Homo sapiens: one gene and its partners. The protein of the gene in region 1 interacts with the protein of each later gene in a pairwise test. Each region holds a gene or a part of one and is shown on either strand. Other genes may lie near its edges. The genes, in order: KATNAL1, PGAM2, KATNBL1 and KATNB1.

Region 1 (7,030 bases):
AAAAGACACATGCACTCGTATCTTCACTGCAGCACTATTCACAATAGCAAAGCCATGGAATCAATCTCGGTATCCATCAACAGTGGATTGGATAAAGAAAACGTGGTACATATATACCATGGAATACTATATGGTCTTAAAAAAGAACAAAATCATGCCCTTTGCAGCAACATGGATGTAGCTGGAGGCCATTATCCTTAACAAATAAATGCAGGAACAGAAAACCAAGTACTACATATTCTTACATATAAGTGGGAGCTAAACATTGGATACTCCTAGACATAAAGATGGCAACAACAGACACTGGAAACTAATAGAGGTGGGAGGGAGGCAGGCAAGAGTTGGAAAACTATCTTTTGGCTACTACACTCACTCTCTGGGTGACGGGATCATTCATATCCCAAACCTCAGCATCATGCAATATACCCATGTAACAAACGTGCAGATGTACCCCCTAAATCTAAAATAAAAGTTAAAAATTTTTAAAGTATTTTTAAATTGAGACATGTACATTTTTTAGACGTAATGTTATTGCACACTTAATAAACTATAGTATAGTGTAAACGTAACTTTTATATGCACTGGGAAACCAGAAAATTTGTGTGACTAGCTTTATCGCAATATTTGCTTTACCAAAATGGTCTGAAACAAAGCCCACAGTATCTCTCAAGTATGCCTGCAGTTTTGTCAGTTCTAGAATGCAAAATAAATAAACTCATATGGTATATACTCTGATTTCCTTCATTTAGAATAATGCTTTTGAGATTCAACTATGCCCTTATATGTATCAGTAATTACTTTTTATTGCTGAGTAGTATCCCATTATATAGACATACTAAAATTTGTTTATTCACTCATCAGTTCTCCATAGCGCACTTCACAGAAACAAATCACAAAAGTACAGGACATATCATTTACCCAGGCTTTACTTTATTTCCACTGAGTTTACATCTAAAATTACAAGATACAAAGAAAGCAATCCACTATGAGGGAGAATTAATACAACATAAAGCAAAATTAAGGCCTTTTTAGCTACTGTAAAATAAGTACATTTAAAGACATAGGGACAAGAAATTTTAAAATAAATAAGCTTATTTGAAAAATAATCAAAAAGAACTTCTGGCATTAAAATATATAGTCACTGAAATAAAAACAAAACTCAGTGGACTGAGGAAGCAAGAGATTAGACACAGATAAAAGGAGAATCAATAAACCAGAAGACAGAGCTGCAGAAACTGACCAGAATGCAGCATATAGAGAATAAGTAAATAAGATTAAGAAATGCAACAGAGTAGAAAGAGAAGATCCATCATGTATGTCTATTATGAATTCCAGGAGAAAAAAGAAAGGCAAAATTCAAAAATACAGTGGCTGAGAATTTTCCAAAACTAACAGAAGACAATAATTTTCAGTTTCAAAGCAAATCAAAGTTCACACCTAGAGACAAGGTAGTAAGACTGAAGAACATTTAAAACAGAAAGAAATGACAAATTATATACAAAGGAAAGAAATTATATTGACAGCTAACTTTTCAAGAGGAACAGTGGGAGCCTGGAGACAATGAAATAATATCTTCCAAGGGGTAAGGGTGTAGGGGGTTGGCAACCTAGAATTGTATACCAAACCATTCAAGTTTATGTTTGATAAAGGCCACATAAAAATTTCAGACAGAAAAGCCTGGATATGAATCCAGGCACCATAAATTTTTAGTTGTGACCTCAGGCAAATCATATAATTTCAATAAGCCTCAATTCTGTCTACAAAATAGGAAAAATAATATTTATCATAAGGTTATTTTAAAAATTAAATGTGATCATATGTTAACATCATTCCTCACATACAACACTGAATCAATATAAGGAATATTTTTACTCTACACTCAACATCAATGCAGATAACTGAAGCAGTTAATTTTTCCTCTGAAAAAAAGAAATCAACTGATTCAATTTTCATTATAAATTTCTAGAAGCTATACTAAAATTATTTTTAGTCATAATCTTGAAACATAGTTTTTTAAATCTCCTTTAATATAAATTAGAAGAATTTCTAGGTCTTTTTAAAATGTCAGGTTAAATCTAAAGACAAAATATTTTAGCAATGTCTAATATTTGACAATGTCTCTTATTTTGAGATTATGTATTCAAAAATAAATTAAGCATCTTCTTACAGTATTTACTGCTGAACTGACCCAGCAAAGTTGCCCTATACAGAATGCTCCAGATAATACCTTCAAGGAGAGTTCTAGGCTCAGACTGAGAAGAGCTCAGTCCAAGTTCATGCTCAGATCAAGAAGGAATACTGCTTTATCTGGTTCCAGATAATTATTTTTGTAACTGTTTCATGACTCAGATCTAAATGTAACACATAAAGCCATCTTTTCAGCTACATCTCCAACCTTTCTGTTCTCTCCTTTAAATCTACCATCACCCACAACACACACACACACACATTCTCTCCCAACATACTTGAATTTTTTATCTCATGCCAAGACTAAGACATATAATTGAAAAAATGAAAAGCTAGCTTGTATCCAGAACCCAATCCCACCAGGGATGTCACTCATAATTCCTTTTACAAATGAAATCATAATATTTATCATTCTTTTGTCTCCACAGTAATGGTTTTTGAAGAGGAAACAAAACATTTTTTAAACTAATTTTATGTGAATGATGTCAATCTAATTCAGTTATACTTACAATACATATGAGGCTAAGAAAATAATTTCTGCTTTAAACTATTTTTATTCTGACACTTCCATATTTTTCTCCTATTGTTCCTTTTCCTCCTAAAAGTTGTAAATTCCTGAAAGTAGATGCCTATTTCAGAAACACCTAAGTAACCTGAACTATAGCAATGTGAACTAAATAACACTAATTAGAACAGTGGTAAGCAAAACAACAAATCAAGTTTTATTTTCAATATTTTGTACCACAATGAATTTTATCAATATGTCCAGGCTTTACATGCTTAATGAAAAAAAAAAAAGTTTCTCCAAATCACCGAAGTCCAGTTTATGTCATACAATGGCTGCTATAAATAAAAGCAATTAAGGAAACACATAACCATGACTTCTCAAATTAATGCATCCTGAAGTATGTTTCAAGCACAATAAATGAACCTACTATGTGAGTACTAATCAACCAAATAGTTAATTTTGAAAACCACAATACCTCCCATCTCTTTATTTTGGGTAATAGTCTCAAGGACTACAGTTTGCCATGAATAATAAAGAAAACAACCACAAACCCAGACATTACAGAAGAATGTATGTAGTAATTAAGGCTTTTCATTTATTTTTTACATGTATACAAATCACTTCTCAAATATTTTAGAAACAAAAAAAAACTGTTCATAAACATAAAAGAATCTAGATACTAATATAGGGTTCTAAGAGCTTAAACGTTTCTCAAAAGTAACCATCACAGTAATTTCTGCTCATGTTCTAAATTCTACTGGCAGCTTTAAAATATTACAAAGGACAGAAAATGTGGATCATCTGTTACTGTGTCTCAAGATGACAGCTTAAACTATAAACTTGGCCAGGCATGGTGGCTCACGCCTGTAATCCCAGCACTTTGGGAGGCCTAGACAGGCGGATCTCCTGAGGTCAGGAGTTCAAGACCAGCCTGGCCAACATGGCAAAACCCCGTCTCTACTAAAAAAGTACAAAAATTAGCGGGGCGTGGTAGCGAGTGCCTGTGGTCCCAGCTACTCAGGAGGCTGAGGCGGCAGAAGCTTGAACCCAGGAGACGGAGGTTGCAGTGAGCCGAGATGGCGCCACTGCACTCCAACCTGGGCGACAAGAGTGAGACTCTGTCTGAAAAAAACAAACAAAAAAAACCCTATAAACTTTATCTAATTGCATAAATACCCTTTTTAGCACAAAAATAATAGTAGCGATGTTTATTGAATGCTAACTCCCCACCAAGTAATACGATAAAAATGTTTTTCTAGGCATTATCTCATCTAATCCTTATAACACTACAAAACAGTAACAGTTACCCACCATTTAGCAGAGGAGGTGACTGAGGCTTTAAAGAATTTAAATAATTTGCCCATAGAGCCTGGATTTGAACCCAGATGTGTCTAACTCAGAGCCTGTCCTCCTGGCTCATTACAATTTACTGCCTCAAATTCCTTTAAAGTTACGCAGCTAATCTAAAAATAAATATAAAAGGCTTATTAACAGAAATAAAGATATTTTGTTGTGGTTGCCTATATAATTAAATACTACTTGTTTTTTAATTTCATAGTGCTTTGAACAGCCTAAAACCTTTCAAAACCATCTGCTTCATATTACTGTATTTTATGAAGTATGTATGTATGTATTTATTTATTTTTGAGGCAAGGTCTCACTCTGTCGCCCAGCCTGGAGTGCAATGGTGCAATCTCAGCTCACTGCAACCTGGACCTCCCAGTCTCAACCAATCCTCCCACCTCAGCCTCCTGAGTAGCTGGGACCACGGGTGTGCGCAGCCACGCCTGGCTAATTTTTGTATTTTTTGCAGAGATGATGTCTCGCCATGTTGCCCAGGCAACTTGTCTCAAACTCCTGGACTCAAGCTTTCTGCCCCTCTCAGCCTCCCAAAGTGCTGGGATAACAAGCAAGAGCCACCACACCCAGACTCAAGTAGTCTTTGAACAAGTAATTTTATAATCATATTTACTTACTCATCCATTCATCATTCAATCTAAACTAATTAGTAAGCACCTACCACATTAAGCAAATAACCTATATACATATAAGAAACAATGTAAGGCCACGTGGAGTTCACTAACATAAAATTCTTGACTTCAAATAATATCTAATAATGCAGAGAAAATACAAGTATAAAAATATCAGGAATTATGTGTTAAATACCAGTCATCCATACTCTCACAGAAGTAGGTCAGAAAAAAAAAACAGTCACTACTGATTCTCTCATTCATTTCTCTTCCTACTGCCAAATCACCAGGAAAAATGGAAAGAGTAAAACATCAGAAAGAAAAGAATACTGACATATAAAGACACTCACAGAGACAGGAATAAACGAGAATAAAGGAACAACTTATTGAAATACAGCAAATGAAGTTATATTGTTTGTCCCTCAAACACGTAAAAGCTAAGAAAATAAGAAATAAAATACATTGTTTTTTGGAGATGATTTCCTTAAAAAACACAAGAGTGAGTATACCAAAACTAGTTTGAGCACTGACTGAAATGTAACATCCTTTGAGAGAGGGGCCAGATCTTATTCATGTATCATGTATCATTTGGTGCACTGTTTGACATAAAGACACACAATAATGTTTCTTGAACTCAAATGCAAGGCACATGTGTTTGATAAATGTCCACAAAATAACCATTCTAAAGAGTTCTATAATACCCTGGGAAGTAAATACAATTGGGGGATCAGCAACTAAGCATTAAATTCTTTACAAAATGCAAAACAATACTGAGATATGATTAAAAACTATAAAAAGTGCTCACTAAAAACAGCTTCATAGCAAAATATTAAAAAGAATAAGATTTCAAACCAAAGCTCACTTTTTAATAGGCTGCCTAATAGGAGCTTTTACAATTACTAATGGACAGAACAAAGTTACAAAAGGACTTAAAAGGTCATTTACTCCTTTGCCATCCGTTCAGTTAGGACCACAATCAAACCATACCCCAGCAAAAGAAACATATCTAAAGACATCCAGTGAAGATTAAACCACCTTGAAAAACTACTCCATTTTTTTTAAACTACTCTCACAATCTATGCCTTGAATTTATCTGGCAAATGCCCATATCTCACTTTTATCAGGTATTCTAGGGCACAATTTCCCTGGGACTACCATATATAAGTATAGTTATCACTGAAGAGAAAAATGTTTAAAATAATGTTGAGCCGGGTGTGGCCACATGCCTGAAATCCCAGCCACTGGGGAGGCTGAGACAGGAAGGCTGCTTGAGCCCAGGAGTTCAAGGCTGCTGTGAGCTATGACTGCACCATTGCATTCCAGCCTAGGTGACAGAGTCAGACCCTGTCTCCAAAAAATAAAAATAAAATGAAATACTCTTGAGCACATTAAAATATAAACATATTTTCATTTACAGATGCTCAAATATCAGTGAAATCACAAATCAGTCCAGACATTAAATACTGTCAGAATTGAAGAATTTTAGAGCCATTGAGCTCTCATATTATCTAGTGGAACTTCCTGTTTCTTTGAAGATGAAAACAAGGCAAAAGTACATTGGTATTAATGCCCTATACAATAACATTTTATAGCATTAACGGAAGCTTCATTTTAAAAAATTGATTAGTCCTCAGACTCTAATCATCACTTTGTAATATAACTACTACCTGATCCACCTGCTTAATATGGTCAAGTAAAGTCTAGAACAGGGCCTTTCTATCAGACAGAACTGGCAGTCCTGCCACACTGTTAGTAAGGAAGTGGGAGAAGAAATGCTTTCAGTTGTTGAGCACTTTAGGGTTTACCTCCACTAAACTGTTTCAACTTCCCAAAATCAAATAAATAGTATTAACACCTCATATGAAATAAGGGTACAGATTTGGAGACCTGCCTATGATCATGCAGAAAATAAGTTGGAGACACAAAATTAGACAACTTACTTTCTTTCCTTATTTTCCCCTCCTTTGTTATGCTCTCTCCCAGTTCTTCTTCCTCTATGCCTCCTAACTAGGGTCTCATTTGTAGGCTCCTCCCGCAAACACATACACACAACTCTTTTTTTTTTTTTTTTTCCTGACACGGAGTCTCGCTCTGTCACCAGGCTGGAGTGCAGCAGCATGATCTTGGCTCACTGCAACCTCTGCCTCCTGGGTTCAAGCTATTCTCCTGCCTCAGCCTCCTGAGTAGCTGGGACTATAGGTGTGCGCCACCATGTCTAGCTAATTTTTATATTTTTAGGAGAAACGAGGTTTCACCATCTTGGCCAGGATGGTCTCGATCTCTTGATCTCCTGATCTGCCCGCCTCAGCCTTCCAAAGTGCTGGGATTACAGGCGCGAGCCACTGCGCCCGGCCTACACACATTT
Region 2 (7,758 bases), on another chromosome or scaffold:
CCTGGCTCAGTGTCCTGATGACTAGGTGTGGGTACTAGGCTCCTGCCCCTGGTGACACACGTATGGAGTGGGGGAGGGTGGGTGGCTGCACCCCTGGTTCTGGAGTCCCCACAGCTGATGGCGGTGTGAGCCTGGCATGCACGGCTGCGCTGGACTCCAGGCTGTTGGGGGAGGTGCCTTTATTGCCCAAGCCCACCCCTCACTTGGCCTTGCCCTGGGCAGCCACAGCCTCCATGGCCTTCCGCACCGTTTCCTCATCACCCAGGAACTGCATGGGCTTGGTGGGCTTCAGCTCCTTGTTCAGCTCATACACAATGGGGATCCCCGTGGGCAGGTTCAGCTCCATGATCGCCTGGTCTGACATCCCTATGCCGGAAGGAATAGGTGTCCTTAGCCCCTCTGTCCCCAGCCTGTTTACACAGCAGACACTATGTGACCTTTATGGTCCACAGAGCCAGTTCCCCTGGCACCAATTCCTTCCCAGCCCTGAGAACGAGGCCACAGAAATGTTGCCAAAGGTCAAGGAGTAACTGAGTTAGACCAAGCAGCCTACAGAAATAGCCCAGTGGTGAAAAAAATGGGGACTTCAGCCCCACCCAAGTGGCTGTGATCTGTGGTGGTGCTGTCCATAGTTCCCTCAGCCCAGTGTGACTCCAGCCAGACTGAAGTTGAGGGTCAGGAAGGGACACTCACCCTTTGTTTTTTTTTTTTCTTTTCTTTTTCTTTTTCTTTTTTTTGAGATGGAGTTTTACTCCTCTTGCCCAGGCTGGAGTGCAGTGGCACGATCTTGGCTCACTGCAACCTCCATCTCCTGGGTTGAAGTGATTCTGCCTCAGCCTCCCAAGTAGCTGGGATTACAGGTGAGCGCCACCACACCCGGCTAATTTTGTATTTTTAGTAGAAACGGGTTTTACCATGTTGGTCAGGCTGGTCTCAAACTCCTGACCTCAGGTGATCTGCCTGCCTCAGCCTCCCAAAGTGCTGGGATTACAGGAGTGAGCCACCGTGCCCAGCACCCTTTGGTTTCTAAAGTGCTCTAAATTCTAGACATCCTGAACAGAGGAGCAAGTGCGGAATGGAGCTGGAGGAGGGACAGGGAGGCCGAGCCTGGTCGAAACCTGACCCTGCCTGCCTCCTGCAGCCCCTGAGCTGGGAATAGCAGCTCGACCTTTGATGTTCGCGCCACTCCACCCCTGCTCCGTGCAGGAGGGTTTAAGAAAATGTTCTCTGGGGAGTCAGAGTGAAATCCCTCATATTCACCACCAAAAGTGCGTCCCCTTTCCCCAAACCAGGCTGTGGGAGGGTCATGGGGCTGCATGAAGTCTCCGGAAGGGAGAGGAGGCAGGTGGTCCTTCCCTCTGCCTGGCCCCAGTGCCAGGTGCCAGGTGTCCGTGTTTGGAGCGGGCAGGCTTGGGGCTGGCTGGGTCTCCGGGGCCTGCCGGTCTGGGTGCTCTGGCCAACTGCCCAACGGCCCTAGGAGCAGGAGGTCTGGGGCACACCCTTCTAGCCTTTCCAGGACTCAACAAGCTTTAAGGTCATTCAGATGCTAATTTAGACTGCCCTTGTGTCAGAATACTAAGGTGGGAGGCGGAGCGGAGGTGCCAGTCACTCTGGGCGAGGCCTTACTGCGCCCATGCATCCCGGGCCCATTTGTCAGCCCTTGCTCTTCAGTGGGAGCCCAGCTGCAAGCCCAGAGTCTGGCCACTCCATAGTCCTGCACCCCTCTTTTGATTGGTCTTTCCTTTGCCCAGAGAGGGGCTCCAGAGGGAGATAGGTGGTGAAGCTCATGCAGGGATTCTGAGGACCTGATGGGGGAGGGCCCTGCGAGGGGTCCAAGCCTACATCAAGAGGAATTCAGTACCAGGGGGAGCTCCCCACCACCCCGGAAAAGGGAGAGGCCCAGAGATGGAGGTGGCTTGTCCAGGGCCCCACAGTAAGTTGGGATTTGGAGCCAGATGCTCTAAGCCCAGCCCTTCCGTTTCCTAGCTGGGTGTCCCTTGGCAGATGCCACCTTTGGAGCCTGCCCCACCTCGGGACACAGCGAGCTTCGAGTGCAGTCAGCCCCTGTGGAGTGTGTCCCAGTTACACAGAAATGGGGAAAATTTCACAAAACTAAAAAATGGCTTCTCAGCCCTCCTTTTTCAGTGAATGATGTGGAGCCCCACGCCTAGAAAGCCTGGTCCATGGGCGAGAGACTTTGCTGAGATGAGAAGCCAGCTGGGGCTGCTGCCCACCCACCCTGCCCAGGCTCCTGAAGGTGGCCTCACCTTCCAGGTGCTTGACAATGCCCCGCAGGCTGTTCCCGTGGGCTGCAATGAGCACTCGCTTGCCGGCCTTGATCTGGGGAACAATCTCCTCGTTCCAGAAGGGCAGGGCCCGGGCAATGGTGTCCTTGAGGCTCTCGCAGGTGGGGAGTTCCCCGGGCTTCAGGCCTGCGTACCGACGCTCCTGGGGGACACAGGCACGCTGCTTTCCCTCCCAAGCCAGTGGGCCCCCACCCGACTCCCCACTCTGCAGCTTCCCAGAGGCCTTCCCAGCAAAGGCAGCCCACCTTGCTAATGGAGTTGTAGTAGGGGTGCTTCTCGTCCATCGGGGGCGGCGGGATGTCGAAGGAGCGCCTCCAGATCTTCACCTGCTCCTCCCCGTGCTTGGCGGCCGTTTCTGCCTTGTTGAGGCCTGTGAGGCCCCCGTAATGCCGCTCATTGAGGCGCCAAGTGCGCACCACAGGCAGCCACATCTGGTCCGTGCCGTCCAGGATGGCCCAGAGGGTGCGGATGGCCCGCTTCAGCACTGACGTGTAGCAGATGTCAAACTCCATCTTGGCATCCTTGATGGCCTTGGCTCCCCGCTTGGCCTCCTCGGTCCCCTTTTCACTCAGCTCTGCATCGAACCAGCCACAGAAACGGTTCTCCTGGTTCCATGTGCTCTCGCCGTGCCGGACCATCACGAGGCGGTGAGTGGCCATGGTGGCAGCAGGGACCACAGAGGACTCTGGACGGGGACGGCTGCTTCCCAACACTCCCAGCTTTATAATAGTGTCTTCCCAGCCCCCACCCACCCCAGCCAACTGCCAATCAGCATTCCAGGCGGTGGCAGGTGACCAGTAGCTGAGCTGCTGGGGGCTGGGGGCCAGGGGAGTGTGCAGGCCAAGAGGCTGTGCTTAAAATAGCCCCACGCATCCACCAGCTCCTGGCCTGGGTTCAGGTGGCATGTCTATAACCAGCTGGCACCCAGAGCCCAGACTGAGTGGGGCTGCTGGTCAGGGATGGGCGTGAAGGGCAGAAGTCTGGGCCAGGGGAGATGGGGATAGCAGGGACAGAGGGGCTCTCCAGGGCAACGCTCAGTGGCCTATCAGCCATTCTCTGCTCAGACAGAGGCACAAACAAAATCCCAACCCCTTTCTCCTGTGATTGGCAGCCAGGCTAGGAGGCGGCCCTCAGCAGGCAGAGGAGGAGAGCCAGAGGAGCTGGTGCAGACCACAGCTTTGTGGAGAGGAGTCTGGCCTTGTGGAAGGTACCAGGCAGCAGCAGCAGAATGGGCAAGGGCTGGGGCTGAGCCGGGTTTCCAGGACAAAGGGGGAAAGGGCCCCTGTCTTTCCTCCGGGGTCCCTTTGTCAAGGTCTCATCCATACATGCCCCATGCTCCCACCCTATCTGCCCTCACCCAAGCCACGCTCACTCTCCTAGCCGAAACCACCTTGAAAAAGAGAAATCCAAGGGGGTTTGGGGGCAGGACTGAGGACTGTCAGAAGTCTTGATTGTTAGGTAAATGCTCAGCTTAGCAGGAACCCACAACGTAGGCTGAAGGGTGGCACGGAGTTGAGTCTAGGACCAAGACTTCTGCATTCAGGTTTGGGGGATGAGAGCCACCAAGGCAGGGAAGAGACTATGAGCAATAAAGTCACAATTGGGGCCCTAATGAAGGGGCCATGGCCAGACCCTTGGGCATGGGCCCCATCCAGGGCCTCCCATTTCCTCCCACCCCAGTGACCACACTGTCACCTGCGACACTTCTGATAACAGGAGCGGGTAGGTGAGAGGCCAGCAGAGGGACCACCACTCTGAGACTTGGATCTGAGTGTGCAAGAAACCCTCGACAGGCCTCCCTCCATCCCTGCTGGCCTACCTGGGGAGGGGCTCCTGGCTTGGGGCCTGTGAAGCTAAGGCTCTGTACCCAAAGGTTGGCAGACAAGTCCCAGTGGGCAAAGTCCTGTCGGCTGCCAGGACCCCCAAGGCTGGCAGGTGGAACCCATCCCTCCTAGCAGTGCCATGCGCAGGTCTCACTGTTCCACACTGATCCTGATTGAAGCCACATCTCCTCATCTGCTTTTGTCCCTTTGACCAAGAGTTGATTCACTAGCCCAACTAAACATGACTGAGGACCAGGCTCTGGCAGTCCCACAGGGGCCAGACATGAAGCCCATATTTCAGTGGAGGAGGGATCGTACCAGCAGCTAAACATGCCTACCGTAGATAGCACCAGATGCTAGGAAGGAAGGACCATAATGTACTGGGAGAGATGGGAAAGGAGAGGCCGGGGACAGCCCTGAGGTGACATGTGAGTGGAAAGAGCGGAGTGCAAAGGCCTCAGCTATGATGAGTCCTACAGGGAGAGCAATTCAGGTAGAGGGGTTGGCAAAGACCCAAGCCCTACAGAAAGCAAACAAGCTGGGGCAGCGACCATCAGGGGCACATGGCAGAGAGGTGGGCTTTGTGTCCCAACACAGTGGGAATCACTGGAGACTTTGAAGCATGGTCATATTTTCAAGTCACTTGCAGCTGTGTAGGAGTGGAAGTAGAAGCTGAGTACCCTGCAGGTCTCGGCAGCTTTGATGAGAACAAGGCCGCTTAGCCAGGGCTGGGTGCAGAAGCAGTGGCAAGGATCCCCCAGACCTGGGAGACCTCACTGCCAACCAAGCAGGAGGTGTCAAAAAGGAAAGGGGAGCCCAAAGAAGGGCTGGACTTCGGGGAAGCAAGCCCCTGCTTCTGACCCTTGGCTCCGGCTTGACTTTCCTTTGATTCATTTGACAAGTAGTTGCTGGCCTCTGCAGTGTGCCAGAGCTTTCTTGGAGGGGTACAGGGGTAGGAAAACCAAAAGCCACCCTCAGGGCCTCCATCCAGGAAGGCATAGCATGGTGGGCGGCGAGGAAGGCTGCTGAGTCAACAAGGTGGTCCCAGGAAGGTGGAGGGAGCATCTTCCCATGTCTCTCCCACTGACAGCCACCAATCCTGGACAGATGCAGGAGCAGCTGTCAGTAGACAGATAAGAAAAGGAGATCAGATTCAAAGTTCCGCAGAGAAGTGGTGAGGTAACAAGTATTGCCTAGCCTGGACACACAGGCGGCTTGAAACCTCAAGTGCACCAACAGAAAGAGCTCCAGGAAGAATCAGAGGAGTGGGATGTGAAGCCCCTCGAAGTCAGTGAGTTGGGGGAATCCCTCCAATTTTTCTTTTCTTCTCTACCCCAGCTCCTGGGCAGTAACATGGAGGTGGCAGTGGTGGCACAGTGACGGTAGTGTGAGCTGGGTACGCACTTGAAACCTGAGAGGGTAACGCTACCCTCTGTCTAGAGGAGCCATGGCCCCAAAAGCATGGGGCAACCACCTTCTGCAGCTCCTTTCTGCCCCCCTGCGCTGGGCCCTGGATGCAGTTTCAGGGAGTATGCAGCAGGGTAGGTAGGGAAAGAGCCCCAGATTTGTGGCTGGAGGTCTTGGTAGGGATGTTGCAGGGAGCTGTTGTGTTTCAGGGAGAGTACAGAGAAGGGAGAGATGAAGTGAGTGATCCGATAAAGTGATATGTGAAGTCATTGGCTTGCTGCCAAGCTGCGCACAGGGCTGACCCTAGATGCACATTGCAGGTCCCAGACTGACCGGTGTAGATACAGGACTAATATGACTAGTAGTGCAAACACTTTAAACAGTCAACATTCTGCTTAGGATTTAAACAAGGTCCAGAGTCTCAACATAATATTTAAAATATCCAGGTTATCCAAAATAACCCAGTGTATGAAAACCAGGAAAATCTTAACATGGGAGAAAAGAAGATGATCAATACATGCCCATCCTGAGATGATTCAACTATTGGAATGATCAGATACAGACTTCAAAGCAGCTATTTATAACCAGCCTTCAGAAAGTATTGGTGAATATTCTTAAACAGAATGGAAATGACAAAGCATGGAGTCCATAAATTAGATGATAGTTTGGAAAAAGATATAAACTTACAAACCAAGAAGCTCAGTGAACCACACAACTGGATAAATTAACAACAAAAGTCCAAGCTTAGACACATCATAAAGAAACTTCTGAAAACTAAAGACCAAGAAAAATAAGATCAGCCAGAGAAAAACGATACATTTCATTCAGGTGAACAATTCTTTGAAAGACTGGATCTTCACCAGAAACTATAGAGGCCAGAAAGAAGTGGAACATTTTTAGTTTTGAAATAACTGTCACCCAAGAATTCTATATCCAGTAAAAATTTCTATTTTACTGGAATAAAAGAATGAAATAAAGACATTCTCAAATGAAGGCAAGCTGAGGAAATTCATAACCAAAGAATCTGCTTTAAAAAAATGTTAAACCAAGTTCTTCAGACAGAAGAGATTACTGGGGGCAATTCAAAACTTTGGGAATGCAGGAAGAACATCATAAATGGCAAAAGTCCACATAAATATGAAACTATTCTTTACTTCTTTAAGAGTTATGTGATGGTTGAATTAAGTCATGATACTGTCTGATGGAGGCTTCAGTGTATACAGATGTAAGACAACTAGAACATGAGGGGAGAAGGGTGAAGGGACCTAGATGGTAGTGAGGTTTCTACATGCTACTTGAAATGGCAAAACATTAATCTAAATTGACTGTAAGAGTATGTGTATTTGGCCGGGCAGGGTGGCTCATGCCTGTAATCCCAGCATTTTGGGAGGCCAAGGTGGGTGGATCACCTAAAGTCAGGAGTTCGGGACTAGCCTGACCAACATGGCAAAACCCTGTCTCTATTAAAAATACAAAATTAGCCAGGTGTGGTGGTGCATGCCTGTAATCCCAGCTACTCGGGAGGCTGAGGCAGGAGAATTGTTTGAAATCGGGAGGCGGAGGTTGCAGTGAGCCAGATTGTGCCATTGCACTCCAACCTGAGCGACAAGAGCGAAACTCCATCTCCAAAAAAAAAAAAAAAAAAAACACAAAAAAACTATGTGTATTAGAACCCCTAGAACAACCACTATGTGTGTGTGTTGGGGGTGTGTGTGTGTGTGTATAGGGAGAAGGAGAGATAGGAGGGAAGGAAAAAAGGAAAGAAGAAACAGCAATGGAAAACAGGGAACAAACAGAAAACAACATAATGGTAGATCTAAAGCCAAACATTTCAATAGTTGCATTAAACATAAATGGCCTCATCACGCCAATTCGACATATTATCAGTTTGGATTATAAAAACCTAATTATATGCTGTCTTTAAGTAACTCACATTAAATATAACAGGATACAAGTAGGTTGAAGTAAAAGGTAACAACTCATTCTCTGAGGGCAGTATTACCCTGATACCAAACCCAGACAAACAACCTAAGGAAACTACAGACCAACCTCTTATGAGTACATATGCAAAAATTGAGAGTCCAGGGAAAAATCCTTCACACAATGGTTAATTGATTTTTGACAAGGGTGCCAAAATAATTCAATGAGTAAAGAATAGTATCTTTAACAAATGGTGCTGGGACAACTGGATTTCCACGTGCAAAACAATGAATCCCCACTTT
Region 3 (7,030 bases), on another chromosome or scaffold:
GTGCATTTACAATCCTCTGGCTAGACAGAAAAGTTCTCCAAGTCCCCACCCAACCCAGAAACCCAGCTGGCTTCACCTCTCACCTACTCGGAACAACTCAAAGTTGATATCTCAAGGGTTTAATATTTCCTGAATGATGATTCATCACACCACTTTCTCTCTCTCTCTTCTTTTTTTTTTGAGATGGAGTCTTCCTCTGTCTCCCAGGCTGGAGTGCAGTGGCGCCATCTCGGCTCACTGCAACCTTCGCCTCCCGCATTCAAGAGATTCTCGTGCCTCAGCCTCCTGAGTAGCTGGGATTACAGGTGCGTGCCACCACGCCCAGCTAATTGTTTTTTTTTTTTGTATTTTTAGTAGAGATGGGGTTTCACCATATTGGCCAGGCTGGTCTCGAACGCCTGACCTCTTGATCCACCTGCCTCAGCCTCCCAAAATGCTGGGATTACAGGCGTGAGCCACCACGCCCCGCCCACCACTTTCTCTTAATTCAGTTTTCCACAGTAAGCTGATTTGAGAAATAACGTCAAACTCGGGAAAGCAGATCAAGCATGAAAATAAAGACAGATGTCTGGAGATTCAGTGGGTACAATACTATATCATTTCAATCAATTTGGATCAAACTGAATTCCAACTCTCTTATGACTGAGATACCCTGAAATAAAAATTACAAAAGAGATGCCAAGTGGGAATTAGCTTTCCTACTACCTCTTCCTCAGTGTTTTTGTTTTGTTTTGTTTTGTTTTTTGAGACAGCGTCTTGCTCTGTCGCCAGGCTGGAGTGCAGTGGCGCCATCTCAGCTCACTGCAACCTCTGCCTCCCAGGTTCAAGCGATTCCCCTGCCTCAGCCTCCCAAGTAGCTGGGATTACAGGTGCACACCACCACACCTGGCTAATTTTTTGTATTTTAGTAAAGACAGGGTTTCACCATGTTGGCCAGAATGGTCTCGATCTCCTGACCTCGTGATCTGCCCTCCTCGGCCTCCCAAAGTGCTGGGATTACAGGCTTGAGCCACCACACCCGGCCTCTTCCTCAGTTTTAATCAAGTCCACTTAGATTACTACATTAGGGAACTGGGACTAATAATGGGAAAATAAAATTAAAGAACTAGGTAGATGTTTATCACCATCCATAGTTGTGGACCTACACAGGCTTTTTAAAAAACATAACTATGCCTTATACTGGAAAGTAGGGAGAAAAAAGTAAGGTAGCAAAACACTATGTTACCACTTAGGTTAAAAAGTGTGTGTCTGTGAGGGACTACTTGTATATTCACTAAATATCTTTTGAAGGATATGAGAGAAACTGGGGACAAAAGTCACTTCTAGTGAGAGGATATGTGTGGCTAGGGGGTGAAGGGAGAAGACTTTTCCCTTTTGGGCCTTTTGAATTTTGTATAATGTGCAAGTATGTTTTAACTTAATTATAATGTATTAGAGTATTATATACATATTTTCTTAAATGGCTATAAAACACCTGAATCTTTGGGAAGACTTAGGACTTCTTACGCCTAGAAGTAGATGGTTATGATTATTCTAGCATGTTTTGGTGAATTCGCCAAATTCCAATTTACTTTCCCTGTTAGAATAACCCAGTATTTTCTGGAAATATTCAACAGGGAGGAAAAAATACTTGATTCTGTTTTAATTGTCTTCTTGGACTCAGAAATGGAAAATATATATACAACTGGCCCTCTGTATCCGTGGGTTCAGCATCTGTGGATTCAATCAATTCCCAATCAAAACTATTTAGAAAAAAAATACATCTCTACTGAATATGTAGACTTATTTTTCTCATCACTATTCCCCCAATAATACAGTATAACAACTATTTACATAGCATTTACATTGTACTAGATATTACAAATAATTTAGAAATTATTTAAGGTGTATGGGAGGATGTGCAAAGGTTATGTGGAAATACTACACCACTTTATATCAGGGATTTGAGCATCCTCGGATTGTGATATCATTGGGAGGTCCTGGAACCAATCGCCCATAGATAATGAGGGATGAATGTATACATACATAAAACATTGTCACTTTAAGGATCATTTTTGACCCTTGTTTGCCTACTAAAGGTATTTCTGATACTTTCAAAACCAATAGACTCTCTACATATGAGAGGATATACCAATAAAGTAGTATTCAACTCTCAAAATGATGAGCTAATATAAATTAATTAAAAAACTCTATCTTCATTATTTGGACTAATGTCACCACCCTACGACACTTGTGCCTAATTTCTACAGTACCAGAAGTCAACAGGGTTAAGTATACCCTAAGCCTTGGAAAAAAGGGTAGATCATCCTTTAAGAATTAACAAAAATGATACTAGAGACATTCAAAATCTTTTTATAACAACGGTTCTTAAACCTTTATGTTCCAAAACTTGTGAGGATTATATTACATCCCCAACAGTTACAGTGGTTGGGCACCACCATATCTCCTAGGCTGAAATCAGAACGTATATTAAGGTTTGAAAATGCCTCCTCTCTCAGGGAACACTTTCTTCTCCAACAGAAGAATCACTTGCAGGCTCAAGAAAATATGACTCCTGTGTCCAAGACTTAACTATAACAAAAATTAACATATTAACTTTCATTTAAGAATAAAATCTCGGCCAGGCGCGGTGGTTCACGCCTGTAATCTCAGCACTTTGGGAGGCCTAGGTGGGCGGATTGCCTGAGGTCCGGAGTTCGAGACCAGCCTGGCTAATACGGTGAAAACCCATCTCTACTAAAAATACAAAAATTAGCTGGGCATGGTGGCAGGCACCTGTAATCCCAGCCACTGGGGAGGCTGAGGCAGAAGAATTGCTTGAGCCCGGAAGGCGGAGGTTGCAGTAAGCCAAGATCACGCCATTGCACTCCAGCCTGGGCGACAGCAAGACTCTGTCTCAAAAAAAATAAAAATAAATAAATAAAATCTCTCATCATACTGTTTCACCTAAACTCTGGATTCAAATCTCCAACTGCCTACTAGCCAGCTCCACATGGATATCCAATAGTCATCTATTCTTGAACTTAACATATTAAAAATAGAACCCTTAATATCCCCCCTCTCAAATCTGCTCCTCCCAACAGTCCCTAACTCAGTAAACGGAACCATCCTCCTTCCAATTTCTCAAGCCTGAAATAAAGGATTCATCCTTGATTTCTTTTTTCCTTAATAACCTACATCCAATTTGTTGACTTTGCCTTTATAATATATTCCCAAGCTGTCCGTTTCTTTCCATTTCCATTACCACCATTCTAGACCAAACCACCAACTCCTTTAGACTATATAATAGCTTCCTAAATGCTTCAGCCACACTGGCCTTCTGTCCTTCAACATTTCAAACTTATTTCCATTTTGTGGCTGAGCCATTCTTTCTGCTTAAAATATTCCTCCCACACACTCACCACCCAATCAAGAATAACCCCACCCTCACTTACAATCATTCTCTATAGCAGTACCCTGTATTTTTCCCCCACCACATTTATCACCATCTGGAAATTAGCTTATGCACTTATTGCCCATGACCTCTCACTAGACTGTGAGCTCCATGAGAGCAGGAACCATGTTCATTGTACCTAGAATAGATACACTTATTCTGGTATCTATTTTTTCTTTTTTTGAGATGGAGTCTTGCTCTGTCTCCAGGCTGGAGTGCAGTAGCACGATCTCAGCTCACTGCAACTAACTCAAGGACAGAAAACCAAACACTGCATGTTCTCACTCATAAGTGGGAGTTGAACAATGAGAACACATGGATACAGGGAGGGGAACATCACACACCGGGCCCTGTTGGGGGGTGGGGGGCTAGGGGAGGGATAGCATTAGGAGAAACACCTAATGTAGATGACGGGTTAATGGGTACAGCAAACCACCATGGTATGTGTATACCTATGTAACAAAGAGCACATTCTGCACACGTACCTCAGAACTTAATTAAAAAAAAAAAAAAAAAAGAGCCAGTGTGTGTGATTCACTCCCATTACCTTACCTCTAACCATCAACAGGTAACCAACAACAGGCCAGAAAGTTAAGACTCCCCTGTCCACATTGCTAAGCAAGGAAAACTAGGAGCACAGGCCCAGACAGCTCATGTGTAACATGAACTGAGGAAAAATAAACCTCTGAAATAAGCCACTGAGATTTGGGTGCTGTTTGTTACTACAAAATCACCTAGTCCATCCAGACTGATGAACTGTTCAAGCAATGCTGTGGGCACAGAATGATTCAGTCAGTCCCACTAAGTGGTTACTTGCAATGTAAACTGATGTCACTAGATATACATATTTAATTCTTTTCTTATTACAGTTGTCCCTCAGTATCTGAGTACGGCTGGTTCCAGGACCACCTCAGATACCAAAATTCGTGGATACTCATGTCCCCTAGTCAGCCTTCCGTATTCATGGCTTCCATACAGAGAACCCATGGATGCTGAGGGTAGACTGTATTACCTAGTTTCCAACAGGTCTGTCAACAAGGATCAAAAAAACTGTTTACATGGAGTTTTAAGGAATTCTTGTCTCTAATGCTATTTTTCACTAAATGGATAATTCACTCAAACAATGAATGCCACCCATACAGGCTTCTTGAAAAACCATCTGCCAGACTTTCTTCAACTGGAAACATACTTTGTAGGCAAGAATAACTGCTTTTTGTTTCCTTATTTTCTATACCAACTATTCAATAATTAAGTAATTATTGAGTACAGGCCACTGTAAGGGAAAAGAATAAAAAGGTAGTTGGCTAAAATGCAGAAGTCCCTGAATGCTAGGTCAGGAATTTGGACTTTATCTTGTAGACAAAATAGACTTACTGAGAAACTTTGTATACGAATTATATGTGAAAAAACTATTCTTGACGATTATTTATATGGCAGTTGTGGAACAGGAAGGCAAAGAGGGACAGTTTTTTTTTTTTTTTTTTCCTTTAAGATGGAGTCTCGCTCTGTTGCCAGGCCGGAGTGCAGTGGTGCAATATCGGCTCACTGCAACCTCCGCCTCCCGGGTTCAAGTGACTCCCCTGCCTCAGCCTCCTGAGTAGCTGGGGCTACAGGTGTGCACCACCACACCCAACTAATTTTTTGTATTTTAGTAAAGACGGGGTTTCACTGTGTTGACCAGGATGGTCTCGATCTCTCGACCTTGTGAACCGCCCACGTAGGCCTCCCAAAGTGCTGGGATTACAGGCATGAGCCACTGTGCCTGAAGAGTGCCAGTTTTTAAATGCTATGCCATGAATCCTCCATGGATGAAAGGCCAAATTTTAATCAATATATATAATTCATTTTTGCTACAACAGTAAATGTCCTGTTATTGATTATATTAAGTGTAGCACAGGGAATGGCTAGGACATAGGTTTTTGAAAGTAAGAGTAAAATGCATACTGAAATGTCAAGCTGGCACTTAAGTATGTGGTGATGGTCAAAATCTTACTCTGTGAGTAAGAGGGGCAGCCAGGGCAGTAATCGCTTAATAGTTCTGAAAGGCGATTAAGTGAACAATAGACACTTTGCTACTGCTGGGAGGTATTTTTACATTGTAGGAATGATGGGTTGTACTCTGGTTGGTTTGCATTTTGAATTCCTTCAAGATACTCAGAGCATCTGCGCAGTACTCCAACAAATTTTATCTTTCCCCAGCAACCCATTCCTTCATTTCTTCACTCGTTCAACAAATATTAAGTACATGTTACAGACTAATTACTATTCTACGCACTAGGGAAACATCAGTGGACCAAACAAAAATCCCTGCTGTACTGAAGCTTATATTCTACTGGCCTTTAAATTCCATCCTAAGATTTCTTCCTCAATCCTATCATATAAGTAGCTTTTAAAAATGCCTTTAGGAGAAATAATCTATGATTAATCACACTAAGATGTAAAAGACTATCCAGAGGCCTCTTCCCCACAGGTCTCCCTCCTCACCAAAGAACACCCCTCAATAAGTAACTATTTTATAGATTCTCGACCTTGGAGATAATTTCAGATGAGATTAAATCACTTGCCCAAAAACCCTTAGTTACTAACAGGCTTAGCGTTGCGACTTACAGTAATAGTGCCTTTCCCACTGTAACACCAAGCTGTGCATCTTAAGAGTATGCTAGTGGGCAGAGGAGATGCTAGAATGAGCATCTCATGACTCATACATAGGTGGTAGGTTTCTGGGTGACTTGCTCAAGGCAAAAAGAATTTCAGACAGTATATAAAACTGAAGGAGAGAGAGGTAGTTACAGGAAGCAAAAAAGGGAGTCCTTTCAAAATACCTTTTCTCTCATTTCTACCCTCATTATGCTCCAAGAACAAGAATGGTAAATATAACGCAGAAGTCTCCAAAGTTAAGGGGTATTAAGCTGGTAGTGAAAAAATACTTAGATGAGCAAGAAATAGTAAACACAGCATTTGAACCTGGCAAAGAAAAGTCAAATTACGCCGGGCATGGTGGCTCACGCCTGTAATCCCAGCACTTTGGGAGGCCGAGGTGGGCGGATCACCTGGGTCAGGAGTTCAAGACCAGCCTGGCCGACATGGCGAAACCCCGTCTCAACTAAAAATACAAAAATTACCCGGGCGTGGTGGTGGGTGCTTGTAATCCCAGCTACTCAGGAGGCTGAGGCAGGAGAATAGCTTGAACCCGGGAGGTGGAGGTTGTGGTGAGTCAAGATCTTGCCACTGTACTCCAGCCTGGGAGACAAGAGCAAGACTCCGTCTCAAAAAAAAAAAAAGAAAAGAAAAGTCAAATTACACCCTTCCAATTTAAAAAGTGTATGCTCCCAGTAAAAGTACCATTTGTATTAGGTTTAAGGTGTTTAATTAAAAAACATTATATTCCTAAATACATTTTCCAGAAAGCACCAAATTAACTAACATGGATCAACAAATATAATGATTGATAAAACATCAACATAATACTGACTAGTGTAATGTTATGATGCATCTTGTTGTTACTAGACAATACTTTTTTTTTTTTTTTTCCCTGAGACAGGGTCTTGCTTTGTCACCCAGGCTGGAGTGCAGTGATATGATCATGGCTCACTGCAG
Region 4 (5,005 bases), on another chromosome or scaffold:
TGGCCCAGGAGCGTCCTCTTCAACCCAGACGGCTGCTGCCTGTACAGCGGCTGCCAGGACTCACTGCGTGTCTACGGCTGGGAACCTGAGCGGTGCTTTGATGTGGTCCTCGTCAACTGGGGCAAGGTGGCCGACCTGGCCATCTGCAATGACCAGTTGGTGAGAGAGCCATGGCACCCACCGCCCCCCACTCCCACAGGGCCACCCGCCTCCCTCCAGCCCAGGCCCCTCCTCCTACCCCCACACTGGGGCTGGGATTTTGCCCCCTCGGCTTGCAGTCCCAGCCCCACCTCTCCGCTTTCTGCAGATAGGTGTGGCCTTCTCCCAGAGCAACGTCTCCTCCTACGTGGTGGATCTGACGCGTGTCACCAGGACTGGCACGGTGGCCCGGGACCCTGTGCAGGACCACCGGCCCCTGGCACAGCCACTGCCCAACCCCAGCGCCCCCCTCCGGCGCATCTATGAGCGGCCCAGCACAACCTGCAGCAAGCCTCAGAGGTGAGGGCCTGGGGGGCCTTCGGGGGCCCAGGAGAGGGACTGTCACAGGGGAAGCCTCGGAGTTCCAGCCCTGGGCCTCACAGGGCACCTGCTTCCGTTGGGCTTGGCCTCACGCTCCCAGGGTGAAGCAGAACTCAGAGAGCGAGCGCCGCAGCCCCAGCAGCGAGGATGACCGGGACGAGCGCGAGTCCCGCGCGGAGATCCAGAACGCCGAGGACTACAACGAGATCTTCCAGCCCAAGAACAGCATCAGTGAGGCCGGGCTCCCGCCCCCAGCCCAGCGTCCCCATCGGTGAAAGGGAGGCTGGGGGTCCTTCCAGGGTAGCCTGCTGTGGCTCCGCATCCCTTTAACTTCCTCCTAACCCACACCTGGGCTCCGTATCCTGTCCTCACGTTCCCTGGGCCTTGCCAGGCTGTGCTCTGATGGAACTGAGAGGGGGGCCTGGGCACTCCCCAGCAGCGGCCCAGCAGCTGCTCAGTGTCCCAGTCCCTGCCCTGCCAGGGACAAGTGGGCTGGGAGGGGCAGGACTGAGGGTTCCTGGGACCAGGAGCAGGGTCCACAGTCTGCAGCCGCATGCCTGGGAGCTACCCTCCGTCCCCCGCACTCTGGACAGGGCCCTGGGTCCCAGGTGGCCTGGCCAGGAGCGCTCACAGCCAGGGGCCTCTTTCCTCTGCAGGTCGGACGCCACCCCGGAGAAGTGAGCCCTTCCCTGCACCCCCAGAGGACGGTGAGTTGGGTGAGCCTGGTTTCCCAAGGTCTCTGATGCCCCCCCGTCCCTCATCTTCTCTTCCTGTGAACCCTCCCAACAAGCCCCTTCCCAGGACCCTCCCCTCTCAGGACACGACCCACACCCTCTCCCGCTGGGTCTCTGCCCTCTGCCTGTTATGTGCCAGGTCCCTGCAAGACCGATAGTGCCCCCGTAGGAGCCTGTGCCCTGGTGTGTGGGGGACAAACATGGACACCACCACACTGGGGGGCCTGCCAGGGGCACTCGGGCTGTGGAGGATGGAGAGGAGTCACTGGGGGCCCACCTTAGATGGGGTCTGCTGTAGACGGGATGATCGGGAGGCTCTCAGGAGGCCCAATGCCTGTCAAGGCCTGGGGGCCAGTGAGAAGAGAGAGAGAGAAGTGCTTCTGGCAGGAAGGGAGCTGAGAGGAGGTGAGCTGGGGCGAGTCCCAGCAAGAGGTCAGGCCCACAAGGCCTCAGCTGGGGGTTTGGATTAAGAAGGGAGAAAAATGATCTGCACTGTGGTTGGAGAACGGGCAGGCATGGGGCCACCTGTCCTGTAGAGTACCCCTGCCCTCCCCTCAGGGACCGTCCTTGCCGTCAGTCCTGGCTTTCCTAGGAGCCTCCACTTCCATCTTGCCAGTCATCCCAGCCCCCTCCACATACATGCCAGTGAAGGGACAGGATGGCCACATCCTAGAGCCCCCTGGGTCCCACCCACAGGCAGACCTAAGGTTGAGTTGGGGGAGAGGGAGGAGGCAGGTCCAGGCCTGCCCCAGGTCCTCTGGAACCCCCACGCCACTGGCCTGCAGCCTCCCCCATGCTCCTGCTCCATCCCCCCATTGCAGATGCTGCCCAGAGTCCCGCCCTGAGCCCTGCCCTTCTTGCCAGGCCCTTCTGGCCGGACCCAGTCATCTTTTCCTTTTGCCTCCAGACGCAGCCACAGCAAAGGAGGCAGCAAAGCCCAGCCCTGCCATGGATGTGCAGTTCCCGGTGCCAAATGTATGTCCATGGAGGGAGCATGGTGTGGGGCCTAGAGAAGGTCCTGACCCAGGGTTGGGGGTGCCTCGGGAGGCAGAGAGGGAGGCCCCAGGCCGGCAACCGCTGAGTTTCACACTTTCAGCTGGAGGTCCTGCCCCGGCCCCCAGTGGTTGCTTCCACACCTGCACCCAAGGCTGAGCCTGCCATCATCCCTGCCACCCGGAACGAGCCCATCGGGCTGAAGGCCTCCGACTTCCTGCCCGTGAGTAGGAGCCCAGCTCGAGGCATGGGTGGAGGTCTGTGGGTGGAGGGCAGAGCTTTGCTGCTGGCTCCTCCCATGCCAGCATCTGGGTGTCCATCCCACGCAGGCCGTGAAGATCCCCCAGCAGGCCGAGCTGGTGGACGAGGATGCCATGTCACAGATCCGCAAAGGCCACGACACCATGTGTGTGGTGCTCACCAGCCGCCACAAGAACCTGGACACTGTGCGGGCTGTGTGGACCATGGGCGACATCAAGGCAAGTGCCCACCCTTGCACAGGGCCTCATCTCGCCCCCCTGCCCCTGCCACCTGCCTGCCCGGGCTTGGGGCAGAACAAGAAGAGGCCACCCATGGGGGACAGTGTGGGATAGGCCATCCCTGACGTCACACCATCTGTTTCCGCCATCATCATCATCATCACAGACTGCCGTTTAGTGAGCATCTGTTTACATGCCTGGCCTTACACTCATTGCGTTAGGTGCAGTGCTGAATACCCACAGCCCCATCAGCACACCCACATTCACGTTCGTACCCCCACCCTCACCCTCACAGGGCCACACTGTCCCCCACTGCCCCACCCCTGACGGTGCTCTGTTTGCACAGACGTCGGTGGACTCCGCTGTGGCCATCAACGACCTGTCGGTGGTGGTGGACCTCCTGAACATCGTCAACCAGAAAGCGTAAGTGGCTGCAGAGGGGGAGTGGGCGGAGGGGCAGGGCTGGGCTGATGGCAGCATGTCCTGGCCTCTCCTAGCTCCCTGTGGAAGCTGGACCTGTGCACCACCGTCCTGCCACAGATTGAGAAGCTTCTGCAGAGCAAGTATGAGAGGTGCGTGTGGGGAAGCCATGCCTGCCTGAAGCAGGGGGAGGGGAGAGGTAAGAAGCCTCCTCCAGAACCATGGGAAGGACCCCCAAGAGCCTGGGTGTTCCTGTGAGCTGGCTGTGAAGCATTGCTGCCCCTCAACAGTCCGGAGGTGGGAGTGGAAACAGGCGTGTGTGGGTGTATGTGTGGGTGTGTCTGTGTCTGTTTCTGCCCCTCTCCTCCTTTGTTCCTTGCTGTTTCTCTTTCTGTCTGTGGCCCTTGGTCCATCTGTGACTTCATCCATCTCCCCCTAAAGCTACGTCCAGACGGGCTGCACCTCCCTGAAGCTGATCCTGCAGCGGTTTCTGCCCCTCATCACAGACATGCTGGCGGCCCCACCCTCTGTGGGTGTGGATATCAGCAGGGAGGAGAGGTGAGGGCAGCGCATGTGTTGGGGGCAGGGGTGCCACAACAGGTGAGGGGACAAAGGCCTGGAGGCCTGGGCCCCTCTTACTGACAGTCCTGCTGGGACAGAGTACAGAGGAGGCGTTGGTCTGGGGCCATGGCTCAGGGTGTGGGTGGGCTTAGCCAGAGCTGGGTTCCTCCATGGCCTGGCTGTGCCCACAATCCCTGGCAGGGCCTGGGTGGTTCCCCTCTGGGCCTCCGCCTTCCCTTGGGAGGAAGGGCTGGAGCAGTTAGGACAGCAAAGGCCCTGGGGTTGGGTGTGGGTGGTGGTGGTGCCAGCTAGCCCCTCAGGCACTGCCCTCTCTACAGGCTGCATAAGTGCCGGCTCTGCTACAAGCAGCTTAAGAGCATCAGCGGCCTGGTCAAGAGCAAGTCAGGCCTGAGCGGCCGCCATGGCAGTACCTTCCGCGAGCTGCACCTGCTCATGGCCAGTCTGGACTGAGGAAAGCAGTGGGCAGGGGCGCTCGGCAGCCCACAGGGCCTGGCCTCAGCCCCCACTCCTGTTCCTTGTGCACCCACTGGCCCATGAGCCTCTGCCTGGCCCCTGCTGCTGTCCTGTGGCCGTCCTGGAGGAGGTGATGCTGGTCCCTGGCCACCTCTACAGCCCTGAACTCTTGAGACAACTCTCTCCAGCAATAGCTGCCCAGCTTTGCCCAACTGTTGCTTCTTGGGGCAGCGAACTGAGCCCTGGGGCTGCTGCTGTAATTTATAAGGCAAATTTTATTAAATTTGTAACTATTCCCAGGTTTCCTTGTGGGGAATGTTTTCTGCTGGCCACAGGGCTCCCCGGGCCCAGGAGTGCCTGCCCCATGGTTTGAGATGAGGCCACACCCCCTCCAAGCCCGGGGGTGGGGCTCTGGGCCATGTGGCCAGCAGGGGGCAGCAGAGAATCAGGCCTCTGGGACAGCACCAGTTCAGCCAGTGCAGACTGGGAAGGAAGGGGAGGCGGCAACCACCCTTCCACCACTGGGTGTTGAGGTTAGGGGTGGCCCCCACCAGCCCGTTCCTCCCCACCTCAGCTACACTCAAGCTGTCTTATGGACACCCCCAGGATGCCTCCAGGGGCAGGACTAGAAGGGCACCTGCCCCTTCCTCTGAGCAGGGCTCCGATCAGCTGTCACTCCCTGCTGGAGTCCCCAGCACTGGCTGGCGGGAAAGGGCTCCCTGCTCCGTGGGCACTGCGACAGGTGGGCCCCCTCCTGCTCCCAAGGCAGGGACCAGGTACAGCCCCGCCCCGGGGTGGTCAGGGTCCTCGGCACTGGAGGAAGGT

Evidence for each region.
Region 2: the proteins of KATNAL1 (region 1) and PGAM2 interact in binary tests that used the Homo sapiens proteins (3 or more experiments, as listed by UniProt).
Region 3: the proteins of KATNAL1 (region 1) and KATNBL1 interact in binary tests that used the Homo sapiens proteins (3 or more experiments, as listed by UniProt).
Region 4: the proteins of KATNAL1 (region 1) and KATNB1 interact in binary tests that used the Homo sapiens proteins (3 or more experiments, as listed by UniProt).

What each region holds. Positions count from the first base shown.
Region 1 is NC_000013.11:30,297,549-30,304,578, forward strand, and holds part of KATNAL1 (katanin p60 ATPase-containing subunit A-like 1), read right to left. Parts: intron 1-7,030. UniProt on the Homo sapiens protein: Regulates microtubule dynamics in Sertoli cells, a process that is essential for spermiogenesis and male fertility. Severs microtubules in an ATP-dependent manner, promoting rapid reorganization of cellular microtubule arrays.
Region 2 is NC_000007.14:44,062,565-44,070,322, forward strand, and holds PGAM2 (phosphoglycerate mutase 2), read right to left. Parts: upstream 3,004-7,758; 5' UTR 2,966-3,003; coding exon 2,552-2,965; exon of another isoform or gene 2,449-2,551; coding exon 2,268-2,448; exon of another isoform or gene 367-2,267; coding exon 200-366; 3' UTR 163-199; downstream 1-162. UniProt on the Homo sapiens protein: Interconversion of 3- and 2-phosphoglycerate with 2,3-bisphosphoglycerate as the primer of the reaction. Can also catalyze the reaction of EC 5.4.2.4 (synthase), but with a reduced activity.
Region 3 is NC_000015.10:34,200,091-34,207,120, forward strand, and holds part of KATNBL1 (KATNB1-like protein 1), read right to left. Parts: intron 1-7,030.
Region 4 is NC_000016.10:57,752,770-57,757,774, forward strand, and holds the end of KATNB1 (katanin p80 WD40 repeat-containing subunit B1), read left to right. Parts: intron 1-8; coding exon 9-159; intron 160-307; coding exon 308-498; intron 499-619; coding exon 620-750; intron 751-1,175; coding exon 1,176-1,226; intron 1,227-2,160; coding exon 2,161-2,228; intron 2,229-2,349; coding exon 2,350-2,469; intron 2,470-2,575; coding exon 2,576-2,725; intron 2,726-3,071; coding exon 3,072-3,148; intron 3,149-3,222; coding exon 3,223-3,297; intron 3,298-3,586; coding exon 3,587-3,703; intron 3,704-4,044; coding exon 4,045-4,177; 3' UTR 4,178-4,475; downstream 4,476-5,005.